Linked DNA regions of Homo sapiens: all the other regions are reported to be linked to region 2. Evidence: microRNA targets listed by miRTarBase, many of them from high-throughput screens and not tested one by one. Region 2 holds a microRNA gene; each other region holds the end of a gene's coding sequence.

Evidence for each region. Region 2 holds the annotated microRNA hsa-miR-3612 (AGGAGGCAUCUUGAGAAAUGGA, at 3,295-3,316, shown strand). A microRNA usually pairs through its seed, bases 2 to 8, with sites in the 3' UTR of a target mRNA and lowers its output. Matches are read on the target gene's strand: a 7mer-m8 pairs with bases 2 to 8, a 7mer-A1 pairs with bases 2 to 7 and ends in A, and an 8mer does both.
Region 1: the mRNA of STMP1 is a reported target of hsa-miR-3612. Seed matches in the 3' UTR shown: 8mer at 7,110-7,117 and 7mer-m8 at 5,270-5,276.
Region 3: the mRNA of OCIAD2 is a reported target of hsa-miR-3612. The part of its 3' UTR that is shown has no 7-base or 8-base seed match.
Region 4: miRTarBase lists PNMA8B as a target of hsa-miR-3612. Seed matches in the 3' UTR shown: 7mer-m8 at 4,507-4,513, 7mer-A1 at 4,378-4,384 and 7mer-m8 at 4,316-4,322.

Annotation. Positions count from the first base shown.
Region 1 is chr7:135,673,398-135,681,285 of GRCh38, reverse strand. It overlaps STMP1 (short transmembrane mitochondrial protein 1), which reads right to left. Exons shown (of 3, transcript NM_001130929.2): 3 at 4,870-7,195. The coding sequence ends at 7,121. It overlaps SLC13A4 (solute carrier family 13 member 4), which reads left to right. Exons shown (of 16, transcript NM_001318192.2): 16 at 1-55. Among named protein-coding and RNA genes, the nearest start is that of STMP1, 15 kb to the right of the region's middle.
Region 2 is chr12:128,290,811-128,298,698 of GRCh38, forward strand. MIR3612 (microRNA 3612) reads left to right here and starts at 3,282; the gene lies at 3,282-3,368. The region is part of intron 1 of TMEM132C (transmembrane protein 132C); the gene reads left to right.
Region 3 is chr4:48,878,381-48,886,268 of GRCh38, forward strand. OCIAD2 (OCIA domain containing 2) reads right to left here. Exons shown (of 7, transcript NM_001014446.3): 7 at 6,639-7,185. The coding sequence ends at 7,104. Among named protein-coding and RNA genes, the nearest start is that of OCIAD1-AS1, 22 kb to the left of the region's middle.
Region 4 is chr19:46,487,108-46,494,995 of GRCh38, forward strand. It overlaps PNMA8B (PNMA family member 8B), which reads right to left. Exons shown (of 1, transcript NM_020709.3): 1 at 4,084-7,888. The coding sequence ends at 6,451. Among named protein-coding and RNA genes, the nearest start is that of PNMA8B, 4.8 kb to the right of the region's middle.

The sequences.
Region 1 (7,888 bases), not on the chromosome of region 2:
AAGAAAAAGAAAATAAAAATTAAATTAAAAAAAAAGAAGACAAAGAAAACCTAAAGTTGTATCTAGTCTTTGTAATCCATTCATTCTGAAGACAGGAAAAGAAAGCCTGTCTTAGTCACCCTTCGGAGGCTAAGCCTTGCAAACTCACTAGGTTTTATGTTATTCTTAATACCTTCTTAGGAGTAGAAAGATACCCAAGTCATCCTACCAAGGCAGAGTGAAACCAGTGACATCTTTTTTGTGGGAAACCTCACCCAGACCTCGAAACCTAATGTCAGCTCCTTTCTCTCTCTCTCTTTTTTTTTTTTTTTTTTTTTGAGATGGAGTCTCGTTCTGTTGCCCAGGCTGGAGTGCAGTGACACGATCTCAGCTCACTGCAACCTCCACTCCCAGGTTCAAGCGATTCTACTGTCTCAACCTCCTGAGTAGCTGGGACTACAGGCATGTGCCACAACGCCCAGCTGGTTTTCTGTATTTTTAGTAGAGATGGGGTTTCACCATGTTGGCCAGGCTGGTCTCCAACTCCTGACCTCAGGTGATCCACCTGCCTCAGCCTCCCAAAGTGCTGGGATTACAGGTGTGAGCCACCACGCCCGGCCATCAGCTCCTTTCTCTTAAGTGCTTCTATCCTAAGTTCTCTCCACAAGAAGGCATTCTTAGTAGGTCTTCCTCATGGCAATTAGTACTCTTTCATCACCACTTTCATTCCCTTTTAAGCATCTCTCCTCAATGGCTCCCCTTTACCTTGGCACCAAATTCCCATATAGTGTTCCCTTTCAGAAAGAGGCTGGTGTTGTTCTATTAGTCAAAGGAAAGGGAAGTCGGCCGGGCGCGGTGGCTCACGCCTATAATCCCAGCACTTTGGGAGGCTGAGGCAAGCGGACCATGAGGTCAGGAGTTCGAGGCCAGCCTGACCAACAGGGTTTTAGTAGAGTGAAACCCCGACTCTACTAAAAATACAAAAATTAGCCGGGCGTGGTGGTGCACGCCTGTAATCCCAGCTACTCAGGAGGCTGAGGCAGAAGAATCGCTTGAACCCAGGAGGCAGAGGTTGCAGTGAGCTGAGATCGCACCACTGCACTCCAGCCTGGGCGACAGAGCGAGGCTCCGTCTCAAAAGGAAAGGGAAGTCAAGAAAGAAGATACATTGAGATTAACATCTCTCTCTCCACCTGTCACTAACCAGAAATACTATTGCCTTGGTTAAGTTTTGGGAGGGAGGGAAAACTTTCCTATGTGTCTTATAAGGGAAACCAAAACTATAATTAAGACCACAGCATTATTATTATATTAGACTGGCTTGCTTCTGGATTTAATAAGTAGTTTGTTCCTGAGAAAACAAAGTATTAGGTAGTAGCCAAAGGTCCAAACACATCTGTCACTTCCTACACATCCCTACATGAGCCCCTTGAGGGAGAAGAGCTGTCTATGGCTCTTGAAATCCCCCAGCAACTTCTACAATGTGGTAAGCTGTAAATGCTCAATAAACGTGTCCCATGAGAAAACAACTGTCTGGAAATCAAGGCTTCTTTCTCCTCCTGAAGACCATGCCGTTTTCTCCATGATAGATATCCTTGCTACATGACTGGAGATAGCTCTCAATCCCTCTAGTTTGTTAGTGTTACATATTTTTTATTTCTCCCATCAGTTGTTTGCTAAATATATCTTAGGGGAAAGGGAGTCCCCTACAATTACTGCACTGTTTTAAGTGATTTTAAGTTACTACTGATAGCACGTGCTGTTTTCCCACAATAATTTATCTATAAAATCACTCCCTTAATTGATCAAGCATCTGTGAGTTGTAAAATTTCTTTTGGAGCAAAAGAAACCACCACAAACATGTGCTTCAACCACAGAATGTGACTGACCATGGTTAATGGGAACATCAGTGCTTCTGCCCTGTGAGTTAGACCAAAATTATTTGTCCAATATAATAGTTAAGACCTCACAAGCCCAAATGAAATACCAATGTTAGGTACGCTACAGCTGATTTGATCCAGCCAACATCTCTAAAGTCATTTGCTTTAAATTTTCAAGAGTCAGGGTATTACTCTTATTATCAGAGCAGCCAAACATCACATTTATGAACCATCACAGAACACAGATCCTTTGCCCCTAAGTCAGACAATAGGACAAAGGTGCAATCTGTAAGATTCTGGGAGTATAAGTAAAAAGAGAAAGAAAAGTTGATTTAGAATTAAGTGGACTTAGAATTACTGGCCAGTATTCAACTATGTGAGAACCTGACTCACTCCTGAAGGGAAAGCTGTGCCAGCAACTGCTGCCAGGTGTTCCGAGTAGTGAATGCATTCAACTAGCCAATTTAGAAAGAGCGTTTATTTCAGTCTGGTCTACTAAACTGCTCTCAAGCACAGCACTGTTCTTTCCCAGAACTGGAGATTCAAGCCAAGCAAGGTTACCCATTCCAGTGACAGGAAATGGCAAATATGATTAATAACTCCTTGTCATCTAAATCACTCCACTGTTGGATAACTTCTAGCCCTCCTTAATAGTCTTGTGTCTCTTGCAAATATAATTTAATTTTATCTTCTAATATTTTATGGATGATGAAACTGTGAGCCAAAGTCACTAAGTATAGTTGCATCTTATTCTTAAACCAATTCTTTATCAAATTTGCTTAGTCAAAGTTGCCTTTGAAATTCCACTAAGTCAGACATTAAGTACATGGTATACAATCTTTCACATTAGTATTTACATATCACAAACACTCATGTACCATCTTTTAACAAATCAAAAGCAGCTAGTTTTCCTTCCAACATCAGAACAAATCTGTTTGTTCAACCATACAATAAATGAGGTAGTTGGCTTCACATCTGGAGACCGTGATGTTTGAAAAAGTCTCTAAACACTAGAATCACTCTCAATACAGCAAGAAACTCAAACCATTAGAACGCAAAGGGAACCGAGACCACCTGAGTACACAGGTAGCTCAGTGGGGCTGTCCTCACTGAACGAACACTGAACACAATTGCATGCACTATTTACATGGCACCTTTTTTGGTCCCAGTCCTGTACAACTGTGTAAGATGATGCAACTGCACTGTACCTTTCATAAAATCCTCCCACCGAGGCTGTGATTCAGGAAGGCCCAGGACCCAGGGTTTCAACGTCCCACCCTGGGAACTTCCACAAGGTCTCACTGTTCTCAGTTCATTTTTCTTTCCCTGTGCCTTGCAAAACATGCCATATGTTAGGTCTTCAATGCTTGACTAAATACACTGCAACCAGATTTGGGAAAGGTATAAAATGAACACTTGAAAATCTAAGTGTCACAAACTCCCTATTAAGAGCAGGCAAGATCTCAAAATATTTTCCCTTCACCACCCTATTCCTTTCCGCAAGGCGAAGCCCTAATAGTCAATAGGGAAAAAAGAACTCATTCATCTGTAAGGAATGGAAATGCTACATGCAAAACCCAAGACTGGAAGTTTAAGAAAAGCCTCATTTGCTCCAGTACAGTATATAACGTTCCTTCAGGAGGAATAACTCAGAAAAGGCATTAAAAATGTGGGAGACCTCAGCAGAAAAACACCAGCATAGTATCTAGGGAGTGAACGGGTTAGTGGAAATGAAAACATTACACATGTGTACCATGGGTACATATGCTCTATGAGGCAATGTGTATAGACAACTAGAAAAACCACACAGCCTACTTTTCTCTATAGTCACACAAACTCATTGGGTAAATGAGTTAGAAAAAGAGAAATAAAATTGCTCCTTTAAATCAGAATCAGGTAACTGCTTAAATACATAAAATACCAAATCAGAAGAAAAGTCTAAAGATATACTTTTGGTAACTTCATAAAATTCAGCCTCTTTTGACAATTTTAAATAAGGCTTTTTTTCTTGCTTTGTTTTTGTTTTGTTTGGGAGGATTACAGTTTAGGGATAAGCTTTTCAAGTTCACTGTATTTTTCTAGCATCAATCCTGAAGTCTTGTATTTCACATGTCAGAGTAATCTGCACTAGTATTTTGAGCAACTCTCATTTTATGGTCAGATGTGGCAGAAGTTTTCCTAACCATATTAGTAGGAGCTTTCAAACATTTTTTAAAGGAAAAAAAAAAGGCCTGTCTTGTGGTGCTTCTTCCCACCACTCCATTGATCTGTGTGGCAAGGGTTCCTACAAAATTCCCAGGGAAGGGGTAACTTTCAGTGCCATAAACCCCATTCACAGTAAGGATTTTCAACTACACCCTAAAACTATGATGGTTCTGGGCTCCTCCAACATATAGCTCAGTGAAGATCATCTTGCCTGAGAACTCTGAGGTCCTTTTCACTGCTGCCAAGAACATAAAACTAGGAGAGGGTATCTGAATGGTGAATGCAAAGTCAGCCTGCACTGTGTAGCAGTTTACATGATGAAGCCGAATTTAAGAACTGATCTGCTAGATGGATCCCACTGGTAGAAATGATCCCCTTGCCAAGGTTAAGTGTCACCTCTAAAGGAAGCCCTAAGTCCAAATGAGCCTTGTTTACAAGGTATAATATAAAGAGACCTATCCTTCTAATAGCTAAGTGACCTCCAATCCCAAAGCAGCCACTCTGGGAGACCACACACACCACAGCAATGCTATCATGGTTGGTAACAAGGAATCCCTCTTTGGAAACAGCTTTCTAAGCTTCTAGCATTTTTAATACCCGCAAGGTAAACTTTCATCCTTTGAGGCTGTAGTTCATTGTGCTAACAATTCAAGATCAAATCTTGTGAGCCAGATGGTACAATCCAGGTGGATACTGTAAATTTTCATCAGTATCAAAAACAGCGACTACAGAATAATGACAAACTTTTTGTGTGGTTCATAAACTGATTCCAAAAGTGACTGCAGAACTAGCCAAAAAGCAACAAGTTTGTACTAATAGCTACTATTTATTAGATAGTCTGCAAAGCACTGTGAAACATTACATACATTATCTCAATTATTTTTTATGAAAACCCTATGAGGTGGATATTTACGTCCACGTCTACAGATAATGCAAGAGTTTCTGAAAGAATAAGCTACAAACCCGTGACATGCAATTTACCTATTAAATGAATCTAAAAGTTTAAAAAAGCTGGGCGCAGTGGCTCACGCCTGTAATCCCAACACTTTGGGAGGCTGAAGTGGGCAGATCACTTGAGGCCAGGAATTTGAGACCAGCTTTGCCAACATGGTGAAACCTCGTCGTTACTAAAAATACAAAAATTAGCCAGGTGTGGTGGTGATGCCAGCTACTTGAGAAGCTGCAGCACGAGAATCACTTGGACCGGGAGGCAGGAGTTGCAGTGAGCCAAGACTGTGCCACTGCACTCCAGCCTGGGCAGCAGAGTGAGACTCTGTCTCAAAAAAAAAAAAAAAAAAAAGCCACTTGCCCATGATCACGCTGCTAGGAAAAGTCAAACCATAATTTAATCCTAATCTGTCACACACAAAGACAACATTGACAGGAATAAAACTTACTTCCATGTAGGAGAGATGCAAGTTGTCAAAGAGAAGCAGAATCACTTTATCATATACAGAATCAATGTCATCACTGTCTGAAAAAAGATGCTCTGAACAATTCTTCCAGTTTATTGATTCTGAACCTGCCATGTCTTCAAAAATGGCATTATTAGTGAAGCTGCTCAACAAGTCCTCTGAAACAAAACAGCTAGCGAAATGGGTATTTGTATTTAGTCTAAATTATACTTTTAGGACTTCATCTTATAGCTATACCCTGAATCGATATGCTTAATAACATTAGGATTGAAGTTATCACTGTAATAGCAAAAGAACAACCTAAGCATTCACCAGTAGCAGATTAAATCAATTATGTTATATCTATTCAAAAAAATTTTAGGCAGCCAAAAAAAGAATGAGGTTCCTTGCTACTTACATGCTGGTATAGAATGATCTCCATTAAAAAAGAAAAAAAGAAAAAAAAAAGGCGAGGGCTAGACCTCCATGTATAGTTACTATTTGTGTTACACGTGTTTGTTTAGGCACAGACTCTTTCTCAAAAGTATAAGGCGAAGTGGTAACAGTAACTTGTCAAACAGGAGCCAGGAGCCAGAGAACAGGGGTGGGAGAGGCCCTTTATATGAAATTACTTTTGTATCTTGTCCCATGGCAAAAGTTAATTATTCAAATTTTTTTTTAATTTAAAAACAATACAAGCTGATTATACATTTGACAAATACAAGGAATTTCTGACTGCAGGAAAAAACAAAGCATCAACTACAAAGAGAAGCAGAAATTCTTCTTGAGCTGCTGATTTTACTATACATTTGGGCTATATTTTTTCTTAAGACAATCACTACAAAGTAATAATATAAATACCTTTTTTAATGTGAAAAGGTATAAAATCTCCTTTAAAAACTTTTCACTTATCCATCATATAACATCAAATGTACCTGTAATCCCAAGTATGATTCTTTTGAGAAGGAAAAAAGTCAGATCAAATACATCATTAAGGAAAAACATGCACACTAAATAGACTATGAACTCTACTGGGACAAAGACCATTATTTTGTGTATTTTTTCATTCCCCAATTCCTGACAGGATTCTCAGAATCGTTTCTTCATGAATAGCAAATTGACTTATTGGTTAAATTAGCAACTACAGAGCTGCCTAACAACAGTACAAAATAAATGAATAATTCACCAGAAACTAGCTCTAGATACTAATTTTAATTACTTTGCAGCAACATAATTTAGTACCAAATGTTTAACAAGTACCCATTATAATTACTAAACTGTGAAGTCACTATTATTTGTATCTGACCAGCTATACAAAACTCATCAATTTTTCTTTTGAAAAAAGGTAGTAAAAATCGCAAACGATAAAGAAGACACTACTCATTAAAAGTCATGTTTACTAATCTAGCACCATAATTCCAGTCTTAGAACCTCCCATGCAGTTGGAAAGGGATTATGGGAAGAGGTGAGTATGTTGGAAATGTCGGGTAGTTCTCAAATTGGGGCCCCATTTTGCTTGCTTTAAAGCAAAAAACACAGGGTCTAGCAAAGAAGAGAAGTGCTGAGGCTGGAGACGAAAACAAAAGCTTTTGGTTCAGATAGTAAACGAGGCCCTCAAGAGCAGTAGAATCAGTATATCCTGAAGGCAGTGCTGGAGGCAGTCTCATGCACTAGGGGGTTTCTTCTTGGCATCCAAGTCCTTTTTAATTTCTTCAAGTTTTTTAGCCAGGTTTGGTATCTTTGAAGAGAAAAAAGGTTATTATAATTTTGCATCTACCTAATCAATATTCTTGTACTTCTCTTCCTCCAAAGATAAATGGTTTTACAAGCTTTTATCTTCCTCCAAAAGAGATCTGCTAAATAGTGGTTATTTCTTTTTGCTTTCTTTTTTAAGATAGGGTTTCACTCTGTCACTCAGGCTGGAGGGCAATGGTGCAAACACAGCTCACTGCAGCCTTGACCTCCAGAGCTCAAGTGATCCTTCCCGCCACAATCCCGCAAGTAGTTGGGACCACGGACATGCCACCACCCCTGGCTAATTTTTGTATTTTTTGTAAAGATGGGCTTTCGTCACACTGCCCAGGCTGGTCTCGAACTCCTGAGCTTGAGCAATCTGCCCACCTCGGCCTCCCAAAGTGCTAGGATTACAGGCGTGAGCCACTGCACCCGGCCAATAGTGGTATTTCTTAGCCTTATAACTGCATGTGAAAGATATCAGAAGTTGTCAGATAAGTATGCTCCTTCTCTGAAACCCACTTCTACTTTTGTATACCCACTTCCGCTCGATCTGGTGCCAAGTAAAGGTTGTACATATAAACAATAAATGTGACATAATGTAGCCTTTGCCTAGAAAACTGTATGACTCAAACGAAGGTTGACAAAGGAATTCCCTTTGTCATATGAAAAGCTTTATAACAAATCAAGTTAGTAT
Region 2 (7,888 bases):
ACAAATAGATTCACTTTGCCTTCTGTGGCTCATTTAACAAAAAAAAAAAAAAGAAATAAGTGATTTCCCAATTTCATAATAGAAATGACTGAATATGCATTTTAATGCTAAACCCATTTCAGAATTCTGATGTATACATATCCCACCCCTCCCAGTTGAGAATTGCTGGTCCAAATGGAAGTTTACATCTTTTCCACAATGAAAGCCACTGAACTGGAGCGTGCTGTAGGTGAGTGCACCATCCTCCTGGTGAGGTGAGGTCCTGCAGCTCTTAGGCCTCTAAAGAGCTGGATGACCCGAGCAGCACAGGAATCCCCAAATTCTCGAGGGACATTCTTATGGTCTGAGCCAGCTGCAAGGCGATCCCAGAATTCCCCTGCAAGTACATCCAAGAAGAAATAAATATCTATAGAGGTGTTGCAAACCTCCCAGGAGTCATGACACAAATGAAGTCCTTTGAAGTCCAGTTCCCCTCTGGTGTAGGTACCGTTTTCACCCTATAGTGCAGAGTTTCTGTCCCCACACGCTAGATGCCAGCAGCATCCAGCCTCGCTGATGACAACCAAAACATCTCCATACAGTGCCAGGTGCCCTTTTCCCCTGGATGGGCTGATACTGAGGGGCTGAGCTGCCTGCAGCCCGCACCAACTGTGTGAATGCAGCCGACCTGCTGCGGGAGGAGATGATGCTGGGATTCCCAGAACAGCAGAAATAGGTGAAAGGGGGAGGAGAGTCTGGGAGGGATTGGGGTCCCTGGTTTAGCTTCCTGTTTTCCCAAGGCTCAGTTGTCCTGCTGTTCCCGTAACTCAGGGATATGCCCTGGAGCAATCCCACTCAATACCTGTGCTGGTTGAGTCCTGTGCTGGTTGAGTGCCTGCCTTTCCTTCCTCAGATCCATCCTGTTTCCCCTGCTCACTTCTGGATTATAGGGAACTGCACCTCCCAGGTTCCCTTGTTTTCTGGCTTCTGGACACATTCTAGTCCTGTCTGAGGCAGTGGCAGAAGACAGGAGGGAGATTGAAGTGGGGAAAGCCACAGTGCTTTTCTCCTTTTCTTGCTTTTCTTCCTGGACTGCCTGCAGTGATGGCCAGGGCGTCTCAGGAACCCCGGCTGACCGGAGGCAGCTTCTGCGCACTGTGTCCTGGTTTGCACCCTGCCCCACGGGTGGCCTTGGCCCCTGGAAACCCCCTGGGACCCATTGTTCCTCCTCCCCTAGGGCTGCGGGGTGCCCTCCTGTCGCTGGTATCTAGGTGTCTCACCATCCGTCTCTGCTTCATAACTCTTGCCTCACTACGTAATCAATTCCTATGTTTAAGCCCTTCTGTTCCAGTAACTACAGCATTTTGTTTTGTTTTGTTTTTCTGGCTGAATTCTGACAAAATATCACTTTTTTCTTATGCACATTCAAGTTTGCTTTCTGTTTCTTGCAGTCAAAAGAATCGTGGTCAAACAGAATGAAAGGCAAAACTTAGAGGAAAGCCTTGGAAACAAAGCCGGCCTCCCTGAGATTCCTGCTGTGTACAAGGGAGACAGGCCCACACTTCCCCACCTGAACCTGTTTTTGACAATCCCTGCCCAACTTCCTCACCCAGCAGTTGTAAGAAATGGGTTTGTCAATGGTTTTTTCTAACTTGTTCCAGTAGAATGTAAGCTCCTCGTGGGCATAGATTTTGTCTCTGTTGCCAGTACTGAAACCCTGGTACCTAGATGAGTGCTGGGCACACAGCAGGTACTTTGTAAATATCTATTAAGTGTACTTAGTACCTAGGTACCCTAGTACCTAGATGAGGTATTCATAAGTGTCTGTTAAGTGTACTTAGTACCTAGGTACCTAAGTTCCTAGATGAGGTATTCATAAGTGTCTGTTAAGTGTACTTAGTACCTAGGTACCTAAATTCCTAGATGAGGTACTTCATAAGTGTACTTAGTACCTAGGTACCCTAGTACCTAGATGAGGCACTTCATAAGTGTCTGTTAAGTGTACAATAAGAACTGTGGATCATGACACAGTGGAATTAACTTGATAGACTGTTGCTGTCAGCAGTTTTCTTTCATAAACAGAATAGCATAGAAATTCTATTCCTAATAGAGCACATTTCACATGGTAGGTCTGTGTTTTCTGTGTGTTGGTGTAGGTATGTGTATGTGTGTGTGTGTATATGCAAGCACGAGCACCAACTTGTGTTGTAAAATGTGATTCTTACAGTAGACCTTGATTTTCAAAAAATTTGAAAGCCGGACAGCAAGATAATAGTTCAGCTTTTTGTGAACGGTAAGGAGTGTGCAAATCTGAACCTGTAGTGTCTCCTGGATTGCTGTCAGTGAGGACAGAGGATCCTCTTTAAAAACTGGGTCCAAACTCCCTCTGGTCTCATTTTGCACCTCTCCACAGTATAAACTCTCCTTTCCAACCATTCCAAATAACTTAATTCCCTAATCTCAGGGGGCCGTTTCATTGCAGAAATTGCTGCTTGTTCACAAACTTAGTAAGGTACTTAAAAAAGATTTTGTCATGGTTAATAAAAGTCACAGGGTAAATTGGTCTTATTTCTTCTTTTTAGTGCAAAATGTAATCCCTTCACCCTGATTGTTTTGCTTAGTTGTACACACCACCCATCGGGAGGCCAGAAAACTTGTATTTATTTCTAGAGCTACCTCCTTACAGAATTTCAAAGAACCTCGGGGCACTTGAGAATTGGTGTCCAGACAGGATGAATCATTTCTTCTTCAATCAGGATTTTTTATTTTATTTTATTTTGCTGGGGGATAAAGATAAAGATGATTGAACTTGTTTTATTTAGGGGAAAAACAGCCTCTCTTTGAACTCTTGATCTCCACTTCTCAGGAGTGGAGCCCATTTGTAAACTCTCAGGTCTCTCATTGCCTTCTTTGTCTCCCAACCTCCTAAGGTCGAGAGTGATTCTTTATGGCAAAGAGTGAGCATTCTGGAGACTGCACAGCCTCCTCTGAACAAACTGGAGCATATATTTCCCGCATCGTCTCTGTCACCTCCCTGGGTTTTATTTTAATTGCCATGCTTTTCAAAAGCACAATTCCTATTAAATTATTCATGGTGGTATAATGTTTATGTGATCAGAGTAATTATTATAATTACGCATTGTGAATTTTCATAATTAATGACCTCACTCGGATTTCATTTGGTGCAGAATATTTCCGAAGGGGAATCAGGTGGTTGTGTCTGCTGGGGGAATCAGAATGGAATAAAATGGTGACCTATCTTGGGTTTTGCAGAGCAGTAGAAACTTCAGTCATTCACTTTGGGGACTGGGGATGAGGAGGCATCTTGAGAAATGGAAGGAATGGGATCTACTTCCAGTTCACTAGAGGCGTCCTGACACCCCTAGCTCAGCATCTTCCTCTGTGAACCGCCCATGGGAAGGTGTCCAAAGGTGTCCTAGTAGAACAAGCCTAGCAGACCAACAGGAGCAAGGAGACCAGACACGCGTCTCACTTTTGGGGCTTTTGAATGAGACTGGGGCTTACCAAATCTGCAGAAACCAGCCAACAATGCTCAACAGCAGCAAAACCACACTTCAGTGACTCACACAGCAAGGTGGCCCTAACAGGACTCAGGCTTCAGCTGACTTCCTCTCCCTCTCTAATTCTGGAAAGAGTAGAAAATGCAAGCCATTGGAGAAATGGCTGGTGGCACTCTGAGCATGGGAAGAAATTTGATATTTTATGATTGGCACCTGTCTTAGTCTGTTCTAGTTGCTCTAACAAAATACCAGAGACTGGGAAGCATCTAAACAACAGGAATTTGTTTCTTGCAGTTCCAGAGCCCAGAGATCCAAGATCAGGACACCAGCAGATTCACTATCTGGTGAGAGCCGGCTTCCTGGTTCATAGACAGGGCTTCTCCCTATGTCCTCTCACAGTGGAGGGGAGAGGAATCTCCCTAGACCCTTTTATAAGGGCCCTAATCCCATTCATGAGGCTCCACCCCCGTGACCTCATCACCTCCCAAAGGTACCACCTCCTAAGACCTCCATTCTGAAGAGGAGGATTTCAACACATGAATTTTCAAGGAACAAAGACGTTTAGAACACAGCCATTTTGTAGTCAGATTTCAAATATTTTAATGCCTCCATTTTCCTCATCTTTGACTTGTATCTGAGGAACCAATGCTTGGTGTGAGCCCTAAATAAATAAATAATAGATAGATAGATAGGTAGATAGATAAGAAGTTCAAGCTTCTTTGTCCCCCAGCAAAAAAAAAAAATTAAAAAATTGAGAAAGAAATGATTTATCCTGTTTCATCCTGTTTTGTATACAAATAGATGCCAGTACTCAAGTGCCCCAAGGTTCTTTGAAATTCTGTATGGAGCTAGCTCTAGAAATAAATTTATATTATGTTTGAGACAGGGTCTTGCTCTGTTGCCCAGGCTGGAGTGCAGTGGCACAATCACAACTCACCGCAGCCTCGAACTCCTGGCCTCAAGCAGTCCTCCTGCCTCAGTCTCCCAAAGTTATGGGATTACAAGTGTGAGTCAACACACCCAGTCCCAAAATAAATATTTGGTATAGCTATAGCTATTCACTAAGACCTTTCATCAGCATCATTCCCTCTCAGCCTCAGACCTACTTGAGGGGAAGGCAGTTCCATCCCCATTTTACAGATGAGAAAACTGAGACGTGTAGGGTCACATGGAAAATAAATAATGACCGCCTTGAAACTGTGATGTCCAGGGCGTCCTGTCTGTAACAGCCTGCTACCTTCCACCCCCTCCCCTGGGTATGCTTTCATTCCTTACCCGACTTCTTAGACTTGCCCTCCAATGTTACTGATGTGCCTTTTAAGTCCTTCAAAAAAAAAAAAAAAAAGAAAGAAAAAAGGGTGGGGTACAACCTGAAGAAAGAAGAAAAATAAGAGCCCCACATAAAATTCTGCTCAGTGATCAGAGACCAGTCCAGTCATAGATTTCAGTTTTAAGCACCAATTAAAAAAAAAAAACCTTAAAAATTTCTCCTATTTCCTTCTTGATCCTTGTAGAATATTGTACTTTTCAGACCATATTTAGTTGTACATTCCTCTGTCTTTCTCTCTGCTCTGTCATTTCTTGAAGACATGGGCCTTTCCTTATTACCTTCCATATCTTCAGGTTGTAATGGGATATTCAACACATAATAAGCAGTGAAATGCATCTTGCAAGAATGAGTGAACATTGGTTTTCTCTGTACCTCCCCTTGCCTCCCTTTCTTCCTAGTGTCCAAGTCCCTTTGTCTCTCTTTGTCCCCTATATTTACTGAAGTAGCACCCTTGTTTTGAGAGTATTTGTTGATTTGAGATGCAAAGCTTTTGGCCTGATGCCTGAACCCAGGAGACAGGACTCAGGGCCTATCCAGCATTGAGACCTGAGTTTCCCAATCATTGGAGGTTCACGTTTTATAATTAGGATGCTTTGGGCTGCAAGTAATAACAACACGAATACAGTCTGCCTTAAATGGTAAGGAAACATATTATCTTAAAAAGCAACTCCAGAAGTAGGGTGGTTTCCAGGTTAATTGATGCAGTGGCTTATTGCTCCCCTTAATGATCAAAGTCTTTCTGTCTCTCTAATGACATCCTGGCTTCACCCCAAGACTGGTTGTTCTCATGGTCACAGGAGAGATGACACTGGTATTTAGGGTACACAGTTTATATGTTTATGGCTAGAAGGAGTGGCCAGCTTTACAGAGGCTTCTCTCAAAAACAAAGGAGGGCCAGCCCAGCCATTAATTTCCTCTCTGTCTTTCCTCTCTGTCTTTCTGGTCATATTTAGAGCACAGAGCCATTCTGTAGCCAGTCACTAGAAAGGGAGCTGGATTCGCCTTAAAGGGATAGATAGAACAACACTTGGACCTGAGAATGGAAGTTGTCCTCCGTCAGGTTCATGACTGTGAGTGTCATGAGGAAGAAGATGGGGCAATAAAGTCAAGAGTAGGCAAGAAATTCATGTTTTCCTTTAAATTGATGCATTTCTTTAATTTAGCAAAACTATTTTTAAAACATCAGGGTTTGATATACTATAAGTGTTTTCTTCTAACCAGCATTAAAATAAATATATGATAATATAAATAAAAGATATTTATCTCTGTACCATTTTGGGAATTGCTAGATTTAGACTAGACTTCCCAAACTGCATATTTCACCAAAACACACCCCGTGATCTTTGGACAAAATAAATCCCAGGTTTTTATGGATGTAGGAAATACAGCTGTAATTCCGTCAAATGGTCTTTTTTTTTTCTTAATTGCAAAGTGCATATGTAAGTTTTCCCCTTTTTAAACTTTCATGATTCAATAGAAAGCAGCAAGGGTCTGTTTTTAGGGGCTGGACTGGCCATCTTTTCAGTTGGTGCTGGCTTGAAATGAAGAGCAACAAATAGAATAAATAACTGCAGTGAAGGGGATAATATGGTATTGACTGCTTGGCTCTGGTTAATTTTCTGTGCTGTGAACACCATGCAGAAGTTGGGCTGGACGTGATGGCCTCCTGCCGATAGGAGGCCAGTGGCTGTGAATATTGTACGTTTGTAAACTCAGAAGGGGTTTAGTGTGCAGCCAGATTCATTTAAAGTCATAAATGGATTATTGGATTACTCCTTGGTCATGCGTCTAAGTAATTTACGGGTGCTATCATGGCTCCGGGTCTCTAATAAGCTTCGCCCTCCTTGGGATAGTGACTGTCTTGCCTTAACTGATGTTGAATCTTTCCCACTTAGTCTCTCCTGCTTAGGGTTAACATTTAACCAAGGCCTGCAAAAGCTGGCTTTGAAGGCACTCGACTTGAACTGAGAAGGTCTGACTTTAATTCTGACCCTTCACCCCCAAATCTTTTCAGAGAGTGTAGCAGTGTCTCCTGGTGGGCACAGTTCTTTTCCTTTTTCCAGGATTTGGTATCTCTTCTGAACTTTTTCCTTCTGACACCCACATGATTTTAAGCAAAAACTCTATAATTTTTCAAAAAAAAGTTAAAACCCAATCATTTACCTCCTTAGAGACCCCAAGCACTGAAAATAAATTATGGGGCCCTGCTCAACCTGTCTACAATTCACAATTAAAATAGTACTTAGCCATAAAGCAAATGGAAGAAAACCCAACAAAATATTTGTTTTCTCATGATGATGACTTCAATATCAAATGATTTACAAAAATATTCCCTCCTTCATGTTAGTTTCCCTGTTTTGCTTTTGTTTGGTGTGACAGCCTGTGGGGTAATCTCACCCCGCCTTTAGCTATGAATGTAGCTTTAAAGGTTACAAAGCATTTTCCTCTTTTTATCCCATTTTATCTCCTCTCCTTCTGCCCAGTACAGGTTCAGGATGTTGCCAGAGAGCACCTGTGAGAATGCACATCTAATCATGTTATTCCCTTGCTTAAGACCCCAGTGCGGCTCCCATTGTTCCAGAAACTAACCCATGACCCTCTGTGGTGGAGCTCCCCAGGCTCTCCAGCCTCAGGTTCTCCCGCCCTCTCCTCCCCCGGGCCATGTGCATTGTGTTTTGTTGAATGTGTTCCTTCCGAAAGGGCAACTGGTACAGCGCAAAATGTTCTTCCTACAGGGCAATTGTTATGTTGATTTTTTTGTCTGTTTATTTGTTTTAACTTTTTTTTTTAAATAGAGACTCACAGGAAGTTGCATAAAATAGTACAGAGAGCCCCAAGTCCCCTTCACCCAGCTCTCCCTGGTGATTGCATCTCACGTAACTACGGTACGTACGACTCACAGCCAGGAAACCAGCATCGGCAGGTGCCTGCATAATTCTTTGCCATTGCATCCTGTGGGTAACTGCCTGCAGCCACTGCTCTGAAGACACTAAACTGTGCCATCAGAGCCTCCCTCCTGCTACCTCTGTATCCTCACAGGAAGACATTTCTTTGGGGG
Region 3 (7,888 bases), not on the chromosome of region 2:
CAGTCCTTGTGGCCTACCCTGTCTTTCAAGTTTACTTAGGGGTTCAGAGCACTTCAGCCCATGGTGGGAAGGCTTGCTGGAACTCTGCTTGTTTGGATGATTCCCTTCTGACTAGGGATGGTCTAAGTGCTACCTCCATGGGCAGGCATCAGCTGAGTTCAGTCAATTCCCGCTGTGACAGAGCAGCTCTGAGTTTAATGCAAAGTCTCACAGTTGTGCTCTCCCTCTCCCAAGCACACAGATTTTCTCTCTGTGCCATGCAGATGGTTCAGGGGTATAGGAGAGGGGTGGCAATGGCAATTCAAGACTATCTTTCATCTTTCTTCAGTGCCTCTTTCAGCGATATGAAGTTAAAACTAGGTATTATGAGTGCTCACCTGATTTTTGGTTCTTATGAAGATGCTTTTTTTGTGTAGATAGTTATTACATTTGGTGTTCCTGTGATGAGAGGATGATCAGTGGAGCCTTCTATTCGCCGTCTTGCTCTGCCCTCCTACCACATTTTTTAATTAAGATTTTATAGAAAAGCAGAACTGCTATCAATGATATAGAGTAAGGGATTTATTACAGGGATTAGACCTTAGGCAACAGCTGATGGATCAGCATTCAGGCTATTGCTTTTGTATCTAGTATTGGGCATGTTTTTCTTATGGCCATGATAGAGACAGAAATGGAAACAGAAAAGGCCTCTTTAAGCCTAAATTTGGAACTTCAGCACACCTTCATTTTGGGCTTATATTTTGCCTAAAGTCATATCCACAAGCTGAAGGTCAAGAAGATAGGTAAATATGCCCCTGTTCACAGTAGGAAGGTAATGCAAAATTGCATGACAAAAGGCATGGGTATAGGAGAGGTAAGTATTAATAATTAGGGCCAGTAACAATCTACTATGCAATCTAATTATGTATTCTTAAATTTCAGTAATAGTAGTAGTAGTAATAACTAACATCCATTGAGTGGTTACTCTGAGCCAGGCACTATTCTAAGTAATTTGTAAGTATCAGCCCATTTAATTCTCTTGAGAAACCTATCAGGTAAGTCTAATATTATTTCCATTTTACAGATGAGGAAACTGAGTCCTGGAGCAGATAAATAATAACCCAAAGTCAAGTAGATAGTAAGTGGTGAAGCCTGGATTTGAAGCACAGGGCCTGATGCAGAGCCTCTCTTGCTAACAGTTCCGGTCCCTAAAGCAAAAATTATAATAATCCTGCCCTTTTCTGAACTGGTCAATCCATTTTTGGAGTTTTTGTGTATGAGGACACCACAGGCCGAAAGCTATCCCAAGACCAGGTTGTGACAGGGTTGGAAACCCACTCCAATGGTAAATAAAACTAGGGCCCTTTAGCCAAATTCCAGGAAGCATGCTTTCCAGTATTTCAATGCTATTTTGTAAAAGAGGAATGAGAATTGTATTTTGTAGCCACCGGCAAATTACAGGTTTAAGCTGAAAAGCATTTATGAAATGCCCATCTCTGCAAGTATGCTGCTTGAGGATTCAGAGATAAGAAAAAATGAGTACACTGTCTATCTTGGAGGAATTTCCAGTTTAGAACAGGAGGGAAGCAAACTTGGGCTCCCCATAAGACTTTCTGAAGAATTTAACAGCTGGGCAGTGTACTGGGCTGCATTGTTGAGCAGTAGGTGTCCTTCCCTCGGAAGTATGTATGTGGGGGGTCCTGAAATCTCACCTCCTGGGACAGTACGGAGGAGACTTCCACAGTGAGTGCTGCCGGTTGTGGGGGGGCGGGGTTGGGGTTGGATTGGATCCCAAGCCAAGAACTGGTGATGAGAATATAAGCTCCAGGAGGATGAGATTTTTGTTGGTTGTATTCACTGCTATATTCCTAGGACCTAGGACAGTTCCTAGTACAGAATGAGTGCTCAATATTTAAATATATGAAAGAATGTGAATATTTTAAAACCGGGAGATTTCACATAAAAACCTGCATTTGCTTGCACTGAATATTGAACAAGTGGAAGATTTGGCAACAGTGGGCTTATCTATTTTTGTGTACGGAAGTGAAGAATACACCTTTGTTTAATATGCCACTAGCTCAGCTTCACTCAATTACATTGTCCGTCTGGTCCTGTTCTTTGCAGCCTCTGAGTTAATCACTGAAATCTCTGCCAACTCCAAGTGTCTACAAAACTGAATTTTATAGTTGAAATTTGGGAGCAGAGTTCCAAAATGGAGAGGTTTTCTGTCAATTAACAGTTTGCATTGTTTGAATATCAAGAAAATTGCCTACACAACATTTGCATTACATTTCATTACTTAATCAAATCATTCAAGATACATTTTTATTGCTATTACTTAATCAAATCACGCAAGATACATTTTTATTACTTTCATAATGTTAAACTAGACAAACCATTCTGACAGCAAAGGAAGAGAATATCTTTGTTTAAATGAGAATTTTAAAATATATAATAAGCATTATATACAGTATATTATATGCTACATATTTATATATGTAATAATATACAGTATAATATCTATAACATATGAGTCTTTCTGGAAACTGATCTATTTTAATAAGAGAAACAAACACAAAAGGATTATTCCACTATTTTTTAAATTATAAAACATACATTTCATTAGAATACAGTTTATAGTAATAACTTTTGAACTCCAGGATCACACAAACTGAGGCAAAATTTAGAACAAATGATCACCATAGCTAATGGTGGAATGTTTGGTTAATGCCTTTGAAACTAAAAATATCTTGAAAGCATCCTTTCTAGTCATCCACTTGTATGTAAGCCAAGAAAGAAACACACTTCTAGGCATCACTGGAGTGCCATGGAGGTGCATGGAATTAAGGAAATCATTTTGATCTTTTCTGGTCGAGTAAGGATCTTCCTTATTTTCATTAGTGTCATTACCCGCTGTTAAAAACATTTTATTATGTTGTCTAGAGGAACTACAAATGTGTTAGACAAGGTTTGCTGATTTCAGATATCAAGTTTGTCTCTTCTTACAGGTGCATCCGTGGACAAACTAATGTTACATTTTAAATTCCATTAATCAAATTCAAAATAATGGGAAGGTTTGCATTCTCGTCACTGTAGAATATCAGTCCATATCATCCTAGGGAAAGTTTGCCAATAAAATTGGTTAGACATCCAACTTTTACTACCGTGTAGTCTCATCAGTTCTTTCTTTCACGTGAGTCTATCTACGATTTTATCTTGCTGTTCTTTTCCAAGTTTTTTTCTTTTTTTTTTTTTATCATGAAGGTACTGCTTTCATAAGCTTGTGACCAGCTTTGTGATGAGTGTTGGTAATGGTGAAATGTCAAAAGGCAGGTGCTGTTCCTTTAACACAAGAAACAGACATTCTCCCCCAGGTACTAGCTTTCTAATATGTACAATAGATAGGCAGCTGGGTGCGGTGCCTCATGCCTGTAATCCTAGCACTTTGGGAGGCTGAGGCAGGTGGAACCCTTGAGGTCAGGAGTTTGAGACCAGCCTGGCCAACATGGTGAAACCTTGTCTCCACTAAAAATGCCAAAAATTTAGCCAGCCGTGGTGGTGCATGCCTGTAATCTCAGCTACTGAGGAGTCTGAGACAGGAGAATCACTTGAACCTGGGAGGCAGAGGTTGCAGTGAGTCAAGATTGTGCCACTGAAGTCCACCTGGGCGACAGACAAGCAAAACAAAACAAAACAAACGAACAAGAAACCCAAAAAAATAGCAGCAGAATAATCAAAGCCTCTTGGATGAACTTCCAGTTTTTTCCTTATTGATTTTCTTTCACTCTAAGATAGATCGTCATGATAAACTGCTTCAATGAATAACTTCTCTACGTAGGAAATGTAGAAAGCCCAAGCAATAAACCCAATTTGATTGAGAAGAACTATGAAGATGTCATCTGTAAAAACAATGCTCCTTTCAACAATAATAAATGTATTGGCCAGGTGCAGTGGCTCACCCCAGTGGCCCAGCACTTTGGGAGGCTGAGGCAGGTGGATCACGAGGTCAGGAGATGGAGACTATCCTGGCTAATACGGTGAAACCCCATCTCTACTAAAAATACAAAAACTTAGCCAGGCTTGGGGGCGGGTGACTATAGTCCCAGTTACTTAAGAGGCTGAGGTAGGAGAATGGCATGAACCCGGGAGGCAGTTGGCCGAGATCGCACCACTGCACTCCAGCCTGGGTGACAGAGCAAGACTCCGTCTCAAAAAAATAAAAAAAAAATAAAAATAAAAATAAAAATAAATAAAATAAATGTATCTTTCCCCAGTACCTTGGGATAGATTTTTTACATTGACTTGCTGTGCTAAGCAATGTGAAATGTTCTGATCCCTAGGAAATCATTTTCTGGGGAGTAGGAAATAAATGTGCCCAATTCTGAATTTTTGCCAATAGCTGAGATAACAAAGAGTCACCAACTGCTAGTTATCAGAGACAAGAGTTAAACTTGCATTTAAGATGATAGGATATTGGCTTTGCATTCTGATTTACAGAAATAAAACTTTATGGACTGAAAAAATAGCATACGTAATATAAAAAGAGGCTTACTCTTAATGTTCATGTAAAAATTAAAACTTCTGTATAATTTGATGTTTAAAATAAAATATTTCATGTAAACGATTAACTTTTAATGAAGTTTCTCTTTTAACTTCCATGATACATGTTCAAGATGTATTAAGTAAAACCCAAATGTGTACATACACAAACCTCTTATATATCTATCTATCTATGTATCTATCTATGTATCTATCTATCTATCTATCTATCATCTATCTATCTATCTATATATATATATATTTTTTTTTTGAGATAGAGTCTCGCTCTGTCACCCAGGCTGGAGTGCAGTGGCACAATCTCTGCTCGCTGCAACTTCCATCTCCCGGGTTCAAGCAATTCTCCTGCCTTAGCCTCCTGAGTACCTGCGACTACAGGCATGTGCCACCACACCGGGCTATTTTTGCATTTTTAGTAGAGGTGGGGTTTCATCATATTGGCCAGGCTGGTCTCAAACTCCTGACCTCAAGTGATCTACCTACCTTAGCCTCCCAAAGTGCTGGGATTACAGGTGTGAGCCACTGCACCTTGCCTATATATTGATATAAATGATGATACATATATAAAGCATTCTTCTGAGAAGTTGCAAAGATGCAAGAGTAGTTTTTCTGTAGGGCTCAGACAACCTGTCATACATAAAACAAAAGGTTCCCACATGGAAGGGTTTCTTTTTTTTTCCTTTCTTTCTTAATTTTTTTTTTTTTTTTTAGACAGAGTCTCACTCTGTTGCCCAGAGTGGAGTGCAGTGGCACTATCTTGGCTCACTGCAACCTCCACCTCTCCAATTCAAGAGATTCTCGTGCCTCAGTCTCCCCAGTAGCTGGGATTACAGGCATGCACCACCATGCCCGATTAATTTTTGTATTTTTAGTAGAGACAGCATTTTACCATGTTGGCCAGGCTGGTCTCAAACTCCTCCAGTGATCTGCCCGCCTTGGCCTCCCAAAGTGTTAGGATTACAGGTGTGAGCCACTGCACTTGGCCAGATTTTGTTATTGTTGTTTTCATGCAACAAATCTGACAGGAGAATAGGAGTCCAACCCCTGGAGTTGCATTGGCTGCCTCTGAACTCCCTAGAATTCTAAATTTATCATTCCATGTATTAATTATTCCAGTGATTCCTCCCATAAATAAGTTGTTCCTTGGGGAAAATGAGAGACAATTTGGGAAGTTGTGTTTCTTGTTTCAGGCCACTAGTAGTATATGAAAGAACCCCATTCTTGAGGGCTGCCCATAAGCATGTGCCCATTTGCTAAGCAGATAACCTAAAGACAAAGAGGCCAGGCATGGTGGCTCACACCTATAATTCTAGCACTTTGGGAGGCAGAGGTAGGTGGATTGCTTGAGCTCAGGAGTTCAACACCAGTCTGGGAAACATGGCAAAACCCCCCCTCTACAAAAACTACAAAAATAGTGGGCATGATGGCACACACCTGTAATCCCAGCTACTTGGGAGGGTGAGGTGGGAGGGTGGCTTGAACCTGGGAGGTCGAAGCTGCAGTGAGCTATGATCATGCCATTGCACTCCAGTCTGGGTGACAGAGCAAGACCCTGTCTCAAAACAAAAACAAAAACCAAAACAAAAACCAAAACAAAAACCAAAACAAAAACAAAAACAAAAACAAAAAAAGACAATGGTCACTTCCAAAACTCCACTGTTGAACCATACTGTTGAACCATAAGGTCACCTGGAGCACTGAAAGGATAGTTGATTCATATTTTGACCCTTTCCAACAAAACACTTTTCACTAAGTTAAAAATGTTGCCCCTACATTTTAGGAAGCCCTTCTCATACCTGTAAGTCAGTCTTGTCCTGTTTCTATCTCCATACACATTAATTTTCTTGGGGTCATGACTTCCTAACTTCTTCAACATTAATTCCAATTCTCTATCAGATAACTTAAAACACTGAAAAAAAAAGCAGAGTAAAAGAAAGAATAGAGGCTAATCTGAGAAGACTTAATTCTCTTATTTAGCTGTAAGCAAGTTGGGGTGGGGGTGCAATGTCATTTGTGTGTGTGTGAGGATTCCTAACATGTTGTGTGTGTGTGTGTGTGTGTGTGTGTGTGTGTGTGTGTGTGTGTGTGTGATGGAGTCTAGCTCTGGCACCCAGGCTGGAGTGCAGTGGCACAATCTCTGCTCGCTGCAACTTTCGCCTCCTGGGTTCAAGTGATTCTCCTGCCTCAGCCTCCCTCTCAGTAGCTGGGATTACAGGCATGTGCCACCACGCCTGGCTAATTTTTATATTTTTAGCAGAGATGGGGTTTCACCATGTTGGCCAAGCTGGTCATGAACTCCTGACCTCAAATGATCTGCCTGCCTCGGCCTCCCAAAGTACTGGGATTACAGGCATGAGCCACTGCGCCATGCCCCGACATGTTCTTAAAGAGCAGAAAAACATGTAACGCTTAGTTCACTTGAAAGCCTTCCACGGAATACATTTCAGTGAGTGACAGACACAATGTTTTTGTTCCATTAGAAGTATTTTATTTTAAAGTACACTTGAAATTTTAAATGTGTACAAATTCAGAGGTTTAAAAAACTTCGAAAGTCACAGACACAGAATTTAGGAAGCTGAAGGCTGAGAGTCTCCCTTCTCACTTAATCCATGCTTTATTTTGCATTCCTCACAGGTAAGGAGGCAGTGCCTAGAAGAGAAGCAAAAATAGACAGCGGTTTGTACTTTGACACTGGAAGCCCTAGTCTTTACATAACATATTATTCTTATTATTTTAACATAATCTTTTTAATAGAGATGTGGGGGGAGTCTATCTATGTTGCCCAGGCTGGTCTCGAGGGCTCAAGGGATCCTCCCACCCAACCCTCTTGAGTAGCTGAGACTACAGGCATGAACCACTGCACCTGGCTTTAACACAATATTAGAAATATAGTCTATGCTAAAGTTCACTAGCCTTGTTTTTTCAGAAATAATAGGAGTATTCTCCCATTCTGTAGGTTGCCTGTTCACTCTGAAGGTAGTTTCTTTTGCTGTGCAGAAGCTCTTTAGCTTAATAACATCCCATTTGTCAATTTCGGCCTTTGTTACCATCGCTTTTGGTGTTTTAGACATGAAGTCCTTGCCCATGCCTATGTCCTGAATGGTATTGCCTAGGTTTTCTTCTAGGATTTTTATGGTTTTAGGTCTAACATTTAAGTCATTAATCCATCTTGAATTAATTTTTGTATAAGGTGTAAGAAAGGGATCCAGTTTCAGCTTTCTACATATGGCTAGCCAGTTTTCCCAGCACCATTTATTAAATAGGGAATCCTTTCCTTATTTCTTGTTTTTGTCAGGTTTGTCAAAGATCAGATGGTTGTAGATGTGTGGTATTATTTCTGAGGGCTCTGTTC
Region 4 (7,888 bases), not on the chromosome of region 2:
AGAGAAAAATGAGAGGCCACAGGTGATTCCAGAACACAGACATGAAGGGAAGAGATGCTACCCTGAGATAGGGGTTGGGGGAGGGGGGCTTTCTGGGTCCCCCTCCCAGGCTCACTGGGTGTGACAAGAGAAGAGGAAATGGTTAGAGATGGGAGGAGGGGTTTGGAGCCCCGCTGCCTGACTCCCCCAGCATTGCCCCTTGCAAGCTGTGTGACCTTGGGCTGATTACTTGACCTCTCAGTGCCTCCACATCCTCATGGGAAATGGGGATCACAGCAGAGCTTTCCTGCCAGCACTGCCCAGGGGACTGAAGAGGGTGTGATGTGTTTGTGAGGTCATCTCGTCTTATTTCTGCTACGTATCAGCGGCGGCCAGCTCTTCACTGCACACCTCAGCCCTGACAGGGACCCCAGGGCAGCGGTGCCCACCCCGGCTGCCCCTGGAATGACCCAGAGCCCATGTCCAGCCTGCAGATCTCGGCAGCCGCTCTCGGAATCTCTGAATGGTGCAGGGCACGGCTGGGGCAGCAACAGTCCCTAAAGCTCCCCGGTGATTCCAAGCAATGGGCAGCCGGGGCTCACAACCGCGACCCTAGGGGTCCTAGAGACCATCAGACGCCACAGCCGTGGTTCTCAAACTAGTCCCGCATCGCAGGCACCTGGGGGTCCTTTGAAAATGCAGCTTGCTGGACCTCACCCCCAAAGGGGTTCTGTAGGTCTAGGGTGGGCCCGAGAATGTGTATCTAGTTCCCAGGAGACGTTGACGCAGGTCCAGGACCTGATTTTGAGAACCGCTGTCCTGCAGGAAAGTCCGCTTTCCCCAGCCTGGCGTTCAAAGACCAGGGAGGGTTGTCCCTTTAAAGCGCTGGGGAAAGCGCCGTGGCCCCACGATTTTAAACGGCGGAACTGGGGTGCCTCCTGGTGGAATCAGCGGGCATCGCAACTCGCGCGGATTCTTCCCCTGCTCTGGAGTCGTAGGTTGCGGGGGCAAAGGGAAGGGTCGTCGTCTGCGGCGCAGTTCTAGGACGTGGCCACATTCCCAGAGTTTGGGGATCGCTCATTTCCCGCTTAAGCAGGCCGAGGGGCCAAGACAAGTTCAGCCTCTAGGGGAAAGGGTCTGGACCCCGGGATTCTTCGCGGTGGGGAGGTGGCGGGGGAGGGGGGAGAGGGAAGAGGTGAGGGAGGGTCTGGGGTCTGGACCCCAGGATACCTTGGCCTCATCCTTGGGGGAGGACCATTCCGTCCCTCCCCTGGGGCCGGGAGGGCCGATTATTCGAGGGAGCCGTAGAGTAAGACAAACGTGGGTTCCAGCTCCCTTCCTTGCCTCTCTGAGCCTCGGTTTCTCTATCTGGGAAATGAGGGTGAAAATCTGCCTTCATCCTCTTCCCTCCTTCATCCTGCCCTCCTCTCTACAGAGCCAATAAAGACGCACAGACATATACATTCGAATGTGTCCACCCCCAGATCCACACAGAGACACAAACACATACACACACAACCTCAGCCCGCCAGTCACCTGGTCAGCTGAAATCAGGCTCCTGAAAACTCTTCAACCACTTCCTGCCATCCCCACCACCCTGCGCCGGTCCAGCCTTAGGCCTGTCCCCTAGGTTCCCGCCCCAGCCTCCTCCTGCTCCAGCCTTGCACCCTGCACACGACAGACCTAAAGCATAAACCTCTCCCTCTCCTGTTCAAATCCCTCCCATGGCTCCCCAGCGCTTAACGAGGCCCTGAGGCCCTGCCAGTCTGCACGCCCTACTCCAGGGACCTCTTCATGCTCATTTGCTGCCTCAGGTGAAAATCCAGCCAGACAGCGACCACCATGGAGGCAGGCGGCCTTCTTTGGCGTCACTGCCTCCACTCCACCAGCACTTAGCCTGGCATGGGAGGGGCAGTAATTACACGCTAATAACCCCCTACAGTCATACCCTTGGCTTGGGAAGCTTTTGCCCTGGCTCTTCCTACACCCCGGTCATGGACTTCCCCCAGGCAACCGCCGGCCGCACGTCCTTCGGGTCTTTGCAACATTCAGAGACCCCGTCTCTACAAAAAATGCAAAAAGTAGCTAGGCTTGGTGGCGCGTGCCTGTGGTCCCAGCTACTCTAGAGGGAGGCTGAAGTGGTGGGAGGATCGCTTGAGCCCAGGAATTCGAGGCTGCAGTGAGCCGTGATCGCGCCACTACACTTGTCACCTTCTCAGTGAGGGCTTCCCAGGCCACTTTCCCAGGCCCGTTTATGACGACTGCAAACCCTCTCCTGCCCCGGCCCTCCTCGGGCCCCCTGCTTGCCGGACTTTTGTCCCCCAGCAGGTCTCACCCCCTAATGCATGGATTTCGTCCTCATCTAGGGAGCGTAACCCCAGCCTCCCCACCGCATGCTCCCTGCGGGAGGGTCCTGTTTCCTGCACCAAGAACAGGGCCTGGGACGCGCCAGCCCTGGATAAATCTCATGGACTGCGCGGATGGCGCTGAGGGCTCCTCCCAGACAGTCGCCTTCTCTCCCAGGAGGGGGCAACCGCGCTCCGCTCCACCCGTCGCCAGAGGCTCCACGCGCGGGACAGACCCGGCTGCTGCAGCCTGTGCTGGTCTCTGTGCACCGGGACCCTTCCCTGCAGGATCTCAAGGCCTTTACGCGGCTGCTCCTTCGACCCCAAACACTCCTCCCCATCCCCGCCGGAGCACTCCCTCCAGGAATGAGGGAATGAAAACAATGTTTCTTTCCAGCACATTCCCCACCAGGCCTATCTGGGATCTGACTCACCCAGTCCGCGTGGTTCATTCCGACCGTCAGTCATTCAACAAATAACAGCCGCCGCCGCGTGCCAGGCACGGTGTTGGGGCTGGGGACACGAAGGGGAAAGGCCAAGCCACACTTTTTCCCTACGGAGCTGGCCCTAAGCCGCTCTGCCGCGCCTCTCCCCGCCACGCCCACCTGCCCCCATGCCGCATAGGTCCCCACAGCCACCGCTCAGGGCCCTCTGCAGGGGCTGCTGCTGCTGCAAGCCCACGGGGCGCTGGGGGGAGTTTGAAAGCAGGAGGAAAGGGACGCCATTTGGGGGAATGCTCAGGCCGTGGTGGCAGCAGCAGCTGGCGGTCACTGCGGTGAACCAGGGGCTCCCGGGTCTCTCCTCAAGCAAGCCGGCCCCGTGCGTGGAACTTGGCAGTCCTACACTAGGGCTCTGATCACCAGCCTTTCCCAAGTGGCTCCTCCAGCCCTCGGGAGGGAGCAGCTCCCTGCATTGCTAATATTGGGACAAAACGATCTCCCTGTTTTTGCACTTCCTGATTGCAATACCCCAGTCACCAATTTCCTCTATTAACCTCCCTGACAAGTACAGTCGGTGTGCCAGGGGGCAGTCATAGCTCTGAAAAATAAAGGGAGGAAGTGCAGAAAGGGTTCCTTTTTTTTTTTTTTTTTTGAGACGGAGTCTTGCTCTGTCACCCAGGCTGGAGTGCAGTGGCACGATCTCAGCTCACTGCAACCTCTGCCTCCCAGGTTCAAGCGATTCTTCTGCCTCAGCCTCCCAAGTAGCTGGGATTACAGGTGTGCACCACCACACCAGACTAATTTTTATATTTTTAGTAGAGACGGGGTTTCACCGTCTTGGCCAGGCTGGTCTTGAACTCCTGCCCTCGTGATCCACCCTCCTCGGCCTCCCAAAGTGCTGGGATTACAGGCATGAGCCACCGTGCCTGGCCGGCCACAAAGAGTTACATTTTTATAGGTGGTCAGGGAAGCCCTCCCTAGGAATGTGGCATTTGAAGAAAGGTCTGAGTGACATGAAGGTTGGAGCCACGCCTATAGCCCAAGGAAGGGCACTCCAGGCTGCAGGAAGAGCAGTGCAAAGGCCATGAGGCAGGAATATGCCTGGTGTGTCCCAGAGACCTGGGTGGCTGAAGCCACAGGAGACACAGAGAGGGCAGTGGGAAACAAGGCAGAGGGTGAGATGGGGGTGGAGTGTGTAGACCTGAGCTGCGAGGGAGAGCTGCATGCGATGGCCATGTCCTGCACCAGCACCGTGCAATGCGGTAGCCACTGGCCACGTGTGGCTCTTGAGCACTTGTGACGTGGCTGGGAAGACTGAGGACATGCATGTGTATTTTTATTTAATCTTAATTACATTTAAATCCAATTTACCCCGTGTGATTACCTAGTTGAACAAAGCATGTCTAGACAGTCCTAAGAACTGCAGATATGACGGCACAGGAAGGAGACCTTGGGGGATCTGGGGAGGCGAGGGACGCAATCAGACCCCAGGTGTGACTTCTAAGAGGACGTCTCTGGCAGCCATGTATGGTGGGGGGACACAGGATGGAGGGAGGCAGAAAACTCAGGTAGGATGGAAAGCTGAGTCTGAGGTCCAGGGCACAGGTGAGGGGTGGAGGCTGGGGGGAGAGTGCCTGCAGCTGTGGCCTGGCAGAGTGTATCTGGGTGGAAGCTAGGGTGGGGATTGGCTGGGCGGGGTCTCCATGGGTGTCCAGGGGCTTCGGAGCTGAGGCTGGAAGTGGGGAGGCATCAGGGGTGGGAGTGGAAGCTGGCTCAGATCTGCAAGGGGTGAGATGATGCTGGGGGGTAGGGAGAGCCAGGCAGGGATCCCGAAGCAGCAAAGGACAGTGTATGTAAACCAGTGACAGGACAGTTCCCAGGTATTCTGGGCAAACCACAGTCAAGACCGTGGACATCTGTGGCCCACGCTCCCACACCCCGCCTGCCCCACTGCCCAGAGCACAGAGAGAGTACAGTGCTGAATTTCACTTTACTGGAGGATCCAGGTGACACAGGGCACAGGGAGAGAAGCCTAGGACTGCTACGGGAGAAGCACACCTGGGGCCCTCCCCACCCACAGGCAACACCACAGGCTGCTGTGCCCAGCTCAAGGTACACCCAGCCTGGTCCTCAGTGGGTGGGTCACTGTCCAGGGACAGCCTCCAAGCAGAGGGGAGCACCCACGCCCTGCAGCAGGTCTCAGTCAGCTTCTACATCTGGGTGTCCCTGACATAGGACTGGGACAGTCTGGTCTGGACTGTGAGGTCACACCCAAACCCTCCTATTCCTTCCCAGGGACAAGTGGGGCAGGGCCCCCTGGCACGATGGGCTCCTCACTGCCAGGGAATGGAAATTGGGACGAGGAAGCACACACATTGCCCCAGGGACAAGAAGGCATGAATGAAGGTGGGGTCCCGTGGAGACTGATATTTAGGTAAAAATCGAGCTCAGCCGGGGTTGCAGGAGCTGAAGCATACGGCACGGCACGGCACAGACTCACATACAACTCAAGCGTGCTTGGGACAGCAGGTTGTGAAGCCTCACAGCACCGGCCCGCCTACTCTGGAACCTCCAGGGCAGGGCTGGGGTTTCCTCCCCAGGTCATTTCATCCCCTGTAAGGAGGGACACGCGGCCGGCTTCTGCACTGCCCAGGTGAGCCTCTGTCCCTCACAGTGCCCTTCGGGGCCCCTCTGGCCTTTAATTCACTCAGGGGGTGAACCCAGGGACTTTCAAGTCTTTTAGTAAGGGCTGCAAGGCCAGCGCTGAGCGGTGGGTCAGCTCCACTGGAGAGGGGGCACCCAGGGGAGCCACAGCCTATGGGAGGGGCCAGGGCCCACTCAGCCCAGAAGAACCAAAACTGGATTTTAAGTGAATTACCCCAAATTGAACACCTCTGCAAATAATTAGAATGTTGGGAAACACTGCAGTCTGAGTGACAAATTCAACTTGTGGTCAGGGGCAGGTGGCCTTGGCCTGGGGCTGGTTCCTTTGTTATCAGGGGCGCCCCAGTAGGCAGGGCTGGCATGTGTCTTCCCTCTGCTCCCCCCTCCCCCTCCTCCTCCTCTTTCCCTTCTCCCACCGTTCCTCTCCCCTTTCCTCCTCCTCCCCTTCCCAACCGCCTTCTATCTCTCAGACTTTCCTTTCTGGAATCATCTCTTCCCCTGGCTGGGAGCTGGGGCCTCCCCTGGCTGAGAGTTGCGCCCTGACACGCGCTGCGCGGCTGGTGACTGAGCCTCCACCACAGACCCAGGGCCCAGTCAGACTGGGGTAGGGGCGACAGCGGCCTACAGCACCTGCCAGGCGCAGGCCCCGAGAGCGCCACGAAGAGCCCTGCTCGCCTCTGCAGGTGCCCGGCGTCCACACACACACCCCCTCCGGGGGCAACCCGGGCCCCCAATCCTGGTCCACTTGGCGCGTCCCCATCTCGGCCCTGCGCTGCTGCCTCGGGCGCCCACTTCTCTTTCCTCCTCCCATCCGGGCTTCCTCCGTCGGGATCGCTGGCGCCCCCGGCCTGCGAGGGCCCGAGAGGGGAACGTGACGCTGGCAAAACGCGGCCCGGGCGCGCTGTGAAGCGAGGAGATTGCGTCTGCGGAGGACAGGAAGAGGGGAGGGGAGGGCGGGGGCCACAGGCGGGCGGGTGCCCTGCGGGGCCTGCTCGCAGCCTGGGCGGCTTCTTGGGGGGCCACTAGCGGCATTTAGGGGGCAGCCTCCGGCCCCGACGGGCCTTCTTCCCGCGCGCGGCCTTGGATCCAGTGGGCGCCTGGCCCTTGGCCTCGCCTGCCCTGGCATGGGCCCCGGCGCCCGCGCTCCCCTTCTTCTTCCTGCTTCCTGCGGCGTCGTCCTGGGCCGAGCCCCGGCTCCCGGCTTTCTTCTCGGGAGTGACGCCCCGGCCTCGGCCTCGGCCGCCCGCGCGGGTTTTGCGGGCCCCGGAAGCGGTGGGAGGCGCGCCGGCCGGAGTCAGGCCCCTGGGGGCCGTGCGCGCCCTCTTGGCCCGGGGCTTCCTGGATGCCCTGTCCTCCGGCTCCGACGCCTCGCTCTCGGTGTCCTCCGACTCCTCCTCGGACTGTTCGTCCGAAGCCTCCTCCGACCCCTCGTTGGACCCCATGTTCTCCCGGGCGGCCAGGAGCGCCAATACCTCCCCCAGTTTGCCTTTGGGGTATTTGTACTTCCCGCCTTCCCAGGCGTTTTCTTTTTCCTCCTTCATCACCTCCGCCATGTCCTGGGCAGCCAGGAGCGCCACCAGCTCCAGAAGACCCCCTTCGTCCTCACGGTGCTCGCTCCAGCCCCCGAAGAGGCCACGCCCAGCCTTCTTCGCCTGGGGAGGGAGATCCGGCTGCGCCAAGGTGGAAATGCACTCCCGGAGGTCCCCGTCATCCCCGGCCTTGCGCAGGACCACGGCGTCCACCTCGCGGCCCGCCTCTTCCACCTTCACGCGGGTCCCGTTAGTGTCCTTGGACATGACGGACAAGACCTGTCGGAGGGGGTCTCGCTTGTCTTTCTCGTCGCTCCAGCCCAGCGACTCGATAACAGAAGCGATTTTCAACATCTCCTCCCGGGCCCAGGGGTCCGACGGGTCGGTATAGGCCACAATGGCCACGAACTCAGGATTATCCAACTCCTCTGTTTCTTGGTCCCCACTTTCCTGCGAGTCGCTCTCCGAAGTGTCGCTGTCCACCGGCTCCTCGTCCGGGGTGTCTCTCACAGCCAGCAGGGCCACTAAGTCGGGGACACCATTTTTGTCTTCTTTGGTGTTCAAGCGGATGGATTCGGCCCCAGCTGGCTCCTTCTCTGCCTCTTCTTTCTTCGATTTGTCGGTGACGGTGACCAGAGCCAAGAACTCGCGGGGACCGTCTTCTTCCCCCTCGGAGTTGCAGGGCGCCCACTGCCTAACCAGCTCCCTGGCAGCGGCCTGCAGCGTGGCGTACAGCGCGCTCTGGTCCTCTTCTCCGCTCAGGTCGCCCTGGTCGATCTCCTCGATCACGATGCCCAGGCTCTCGTCGGAAGAGTCCTCGGCCTCACTCCTCGCGGGAGCAGACGGCCGTCCTCCTCGGCTTCTCTTCTTGCCCTTCTGGGTCAACCTGTTGCGTCTGGTTCTGTTTCTGCGACCCCGACGGCCCCTCCTT